Regions from separate parts of the Homo sapiens genome. Here region 1 is linked to region 2. A link means that fine-mapping ties the variant in region 2 to the expression of a gene that starts in the linked region. Tissue or cell type: prefrontal cortex. Region 2 holds a variant in brackets; the other region holds the start of a gene. All regions are shown on one strand. Distances are from middle to middle.

What was found. PIP is the estimated chance that this variant, and not a neighbour inherited with it, causes the effect. A credible set is the group of variants that fine-mapping cannot tell apart.
Region 1: it holds the start of LINC02347, and the variant in region 2 is the best candidate, but not a certain one, in a credible set for the expression of LINC02347 in prefrontal cortex (GTEx, PIP 0.65).

The regions. Positions count from the first base shown.
Region 1 is chr12:126,441,479-126,444,169 of GRCh38, reverse strand. LINC02347 (long intergenic non-protein coding RNA 2347) reads right to left here and starts at 1,689. Exons shown (of 12, transcript NR_130748.1): 1 at 1,582-1,689; 2 at 1,143-1,204. All of the region lies in intron 2 of LINC02825 (long intergenic non-protein coding RNA 2825), which reads left to right.
Region 2 is chr12:126,357,179-126,359,869 of GRCh38, reverse strand. It overlaps LOC105379613 (a long non-coding RNA gene), which reads right to left. Exons shown (of 3, transcript XR_001749379.1): 3 at 2,143-2,691. LOC101927531 (a long non-coding RNA gene) reads right to left here and starts at 1,851. Exons shown (of 3, transcript NR_187677.1): 1 at 1,733-1,851; 2 at 224-1,644. The variant C/T (reference allele first, on the strand shown) is at 1,674.

The DNA.
Region 1 (2,691 bases), 84 kb before region 2:
GAAACAAAAACCACAACGAAAAAACCTCCCATGTTCTTAGGCTCTGGCTCTGTCTGGGACATCTGCTGTCCATAGAGTAACCAAGGGCTATTTCCCAGCCACTAATTCCAGAGGTTTCCAGAGGGTTTTGTTCCCTCCTTCTTTGAACACTGCAGTCCATCAGGGTTTCAAGTAGTCCTGGTTTCCCAAAGTCTTGGTTGAAACCTGAAACACAGGACATTTGACCAAAAAAACAAAACAAAACAAACAAAAAGAAAAAAAGCCCCTATCCTAATGCCACAGAGACCCCAAAACAATTCACCAAGTGCATCAGGCCTCAGAGAATCAAATCAACTCTTTCAGTCTCTGCCAATGGCCATTCTCTCCATAAGTCTCGGGCAAAATTCCCGGTGGGAGGCAAATGAAGCCGTGTCTACACATCTGCTGTCCTCCCTCCCACACACCCTCTCCACTTCCTTCCTCGGTAGGTCACAATCAAAACACCTATGCAAATTTAGTGATTCTTTATAATTTCTTATCCATTGAGCCTCTCATGCTGTGCTTTATCAGTTTTCCATGACCACGAGACGCTCGCAGAACAAGCTAGTGCTTGGGACAACTGAAGATGAAAAATAGATCATTGGAGGTTGTGATCTAGCAAGGAAGATTAGGTTTATACCTAGAAAAGTTAGAAAAGCAGGCGCCTAGAGAGCCAGGTGTCACCATTTTAAAATTAACTCCATCTTTAAACTCGCAACACACATTCCTTGCCAGTTATGACCCGTGGTCATAAGATGTTTACTGCAGAGGAAACCGCTTGGCAATGCCTGCAAGGACAAACTCCTACAACAGCAGAAAGTCCACATGTCCCAATATCACATAACAATATATGCTTTTAAGAAATGTACAATCATGCTTTCATGTACTTATAAACTAAAATGCCAAGGATAACTTTCTTTAAATGGCCAAAGTACTACATCTTGTCACATTGTCAGCCCACCCACACACAGAGATAGCTTAGCTTTTATGTAGATGAGACCCCTGTGTAAGAAGAGTTTAAAACAAAGACAGGGCATTCCTCCTCTTGCTTTCTGAGGACACCCTACTCTGAATCTGAAGAATTTTCAATAAATGATCTCTTCTCACTACACTCTACAACTCACCTTGAATCCCTTTCTGTGGGAGGTCCAGGAACCCTCTCTTGAGGTCTGGATCATAGGGACCCCTTTTTCCAGCAACACAAACATTGACAATATAAAAATAAAGAACATGTTTATCTATGATATCAATGTCTGTATCTGTAAGTATACCTAGCTCAAAATCTGTCTCTTTATTTAGTTTTCTAACTATATGTCTATCTGTATCATAGACATATTAGAAATCATAATTTCTAACATATTGTTGTAGGAGGTCATAACAGAACCTATTATAAAGTGACAGTCTCTTGCTCCTATTTTCTATTATTTCCCATTCAGTCCAGGTAAGTCTTTTTGGGGGACCCTCCCCCACACCCGCTGGAACAGTTACTCTGGCACAGCCGCTCCAGCCTGGATCTCATTTTTGCTTCTCCTGGACTTCTCACTGTGCAGATGTTAGACTCACACTCTCCTCTGGCCTCCTGCTCCTGCTCTGAAAGTGAGCAGTTGTCCCTCTGGGTGGCATTTGAAGTCAAAGCTGGGTCTCTTGACAGTGCCCACCCCTGGTATTCCCACTGCAGGAGGGAGGCCTCTTCTGTTAACAGTGACAGTTATTACAGAACAATGCCTGGAGAGATGATAACTTAGAGCAATTTCATTGTCTTTCCCCTTGACGACTCAGCTCCCACGCTAGAGCAGGTGAGGCAGTGCTTAGGAATAACAAAACAAAATCGCAAAGCCAGGACTTCCTTGAGTTTACTTTGCTTTCTCACTAGATTTTAATTATTATTATTATTATTATTATTATTATTTTGAGATGGAGTTTCACTCTCGTCACCCAGGCTGGAGTGCAATGACGGGATCTCAGCTCACTGCAACCTCTGCCTCCCGGGACCAAGCTATTCTGCCTCAGCCTCCTGAGTAGCTGGGATTACAGGCACCCGCCACCAAGCCTGGCTCATTTTTGTATTTTTAGTAGAGACAGGGTTTCACCATGTTGGCCAGGCTGGTCTCGAACTCCTGACCTCAGGTGATCCGCGTGCCTCAGCCTCCCAAAGTGCTGGGATTACAGGTGTGACCCACGGTGCCCGGCCTCTGACTAGCTTTTTGGAAAATTTCATAGAATGATCCAGGGTTCCAGATTCAATTTACTTTAAGGTGAAATAAGTGGGCTGGTTAGCAAGTGGTCAGCTTTTCTTTGGTGTGAGGATAAAAAGAGGGTGGCTACTTTCTATGGCTTTCCAAACAGTCTCTGTTTCACTTAGTCCAAAAACACGTAATGTTCATATAACAAAGAAATGATACATATTTGAGGTGATGATATACTAAGTTGCCTAATTGGATCATTCCGCCATGTATACAGGTATCAAAACATCACATTTTGTTCTATAAATATATACAGTTACTATTTGTGAATTTAAAATCAAACTATAAAAAATACATTCTACTAATGTTCTAAGATGACTTCTGAGACATTTAGCGTGTATTGATTACTTATACTATGTCTCTCACTGCTTCTACTCATTGAAGAGGTTTATATTGTAAGTAAACATAATTCTTATCATATTCATTTTAC
Region 2 (2,691 bases):
GTAAGACTATGAGAACATCTATTATATTCCCCAGGAAAATATGCATAATTTCACTTTTCTATATTCTTGACTAGACCTGATTATTTTTTAGGAGCAGCCCTCGAATAAACAGCAAACCTTACTGACTGAAAAATTCAAACTCCAACTGCTCACAGGCACCATAGAGAGAATGAGAATGAGAACATACACAGGGTGTGTGGTTGGGGTTCATGTGAATTCTTACCTGTTTTTCTTTAATTTACATATTCCAATTTCCACTCTTTGTGACTTCCAGAAACAGAATGTTATCTGAGCCAATTATCTACGTGCATTTTCTCTTCATCTCTCTCCTGAGCCAAATTCTGATTTAATTTCCACCCATGGTGATATGCAGCCATGTACGTAGGCCAGTTGGGCCCATCACATTTGAATGAATGTGATTAGACAGATGTGAGATGGCTCAATCCCAGATGCTTCCTCTAAGCGCTATTGTGGATGTGGAGAGAAACATTATTGGTTGTACTTTTAATATTCAGCAAATTGTCTCAAAATGGCCCCTAGGCACACATAAGGTTCAGTAGCTGGCTGGCATTCCAATCTCACAGTAAGTGAAATTCTAACTTTAGTAATAAATTAACTTGGGAACTTTGGACATATCTCACAAAATCTGTGAGATATCTGACTATGTCATTTTACCAATATCCACACACAAGTCTAGAACAATTACAATGTACAAACCTAGAAATTTGGGACATCTGGTTTACCAGTTGCTCCGCCTCTAGCTCAGCTTTCAAAGATGCTCCTGTTTACAATTAACGGACATGATTATTTCACGCAGATGGAAGGTCTTGCTGTTGGAGTTAAACATATTTGACTCAATCAATAGAGTTATTGTTCTGGGACCAAAATGTCTCTGACTCATAACCTTGCTTTTGCTCTTCCTATCAAATGAGTGTGATATTAATTTCTAGCCCTGCAGTGGTAGAATCCTCCCAGCAATATAAGAAGACGGAAGAAATAAGAACGTCAGTCAAGCACTCCCTTGACATACCTTTTCATTTTACCAGTCACACCACAGCAGCAGAACAAATATTACAGGCTTGTGTAAAGTGCTATAACTAATCCAATAAATGACAAGAGCCTCCCGTCCTCAGTAATTCTCATTTAGGATGTGTTTCTTCTCTAATAGGTTTCCCTCCAAATGCTTTGTGTCATGAATTCGCTACAGCAAAAACCTTTAAGAATCTGAAATTCACTGGAGCTATCCTGCATTTGCAGCCCAGAAATTACTGGCTTTAGCAGTCTTTGCTCTCTCGGTTTAATCTGAACATAAATACAGATATTTGCTTCAACAGTCGCTAAAGGAAAATTATAACACTGTCAAAAAAACTTGGAGAAGCTGCCTGAAAATGGTGTTCATTTCCCTTTTCTTTCAGCATTCTTCTTTGTTAGCACAACTCAGAGGAGTGCACCAGTAGAGTTACTACCTTTCTTCTTTCAATGACGGGGAAAGCCACCACCATCTGCCACATTTTTTTTCTAAAAGCAAAACCCAAACAGAAAAGGTATTTGCTCTTAGCAAATAATCAAAACGCAGCAAATGGACTGTCCCAACATGGTTGCTTTGCGGGGGTCACCTCTTTGGTTGGCAGTGAAAACCGACTCCTGAAATAAAAAGAAAAATTCAAATGTGA[C/T]AACCGGTCTTCAGATGTTATCACCTTCAACTCATAAGCACTGAAGGAGAGCTAACTACCTTGCACTTCTTGTCACCTTGGTGGGGCATTGCAGGTTCTGGGAAGAAACTGAGGCCACTGAGGCCTGCTTTCCGAGAAAGAGACCAAAGGCCAGAAATGGAGCTAACAGGAAATAAAGACATATGGTTGTTGTTTCTCCCCTCCCTTCCCTCTCTTCCCCTCCCCTCCTCTTCCCTCTCTTCCCCTCCCCTCCCCTCTCTTTCCCTCCCTCCCCTCTCTTCCCCTCCCCTCTCTTCCCTTCCCCTCCCCTCTCCTCCCGTCCCTCCCCTATCCCCTCCCTCCCCTCTCTTCCCTTTCCCTCCCCTCCCCTTCCTTCTTGCCTCCCCTCTCCTCCCCTCCCTCCCCTCTCTTCCGACTCCCTCCCCTCTCTTTCTCTCCCCTCCCCATCCCTTCCCTTTCCTTTTCTCTTTTCTTGTCTTTTCAAACTTTACATTCGATTCCACCTCTTTACAAGCTCCCATTAGCTTAAGGTCAGATAGAAGTTTGCATGCAAACATAGTAAAATAGGCTTCCATACAGCAAACAACTATCAAAAGGTCATGCTTTTTATTTTCACAGACGTAAAAGCCACCATCAACATTTGCAATGAGAGCAGTGAGATGTAACAGCAACAACTGCTACCAATAAACCTAATAATCGCAAAGATCGCACCTAGTTTGTACCGTGTTATATCCCGGTGCAAGACAGTGACTGCTATAAAGCAGGTGATTGTTAAGTATTTTTTGAATGGATGAATGAACGAAATGTAATTTTGAACACTTCCCCCCCTCTTCCCTTGGTACATATATATAGGTGCTATATTTCCTCTTGACACATCAGTGCCACCATCTTCTTCTAAGGCTGGGCGGTACATTTCCCTGATCTATTTGCCTCTGAGCCTACTGGTCAGAGCTTGGTTTAAGGGGAACCCAGGAGTGATTTGGTAGGCAGAAAGAAGCAGAAGACATCGACCCCTGGA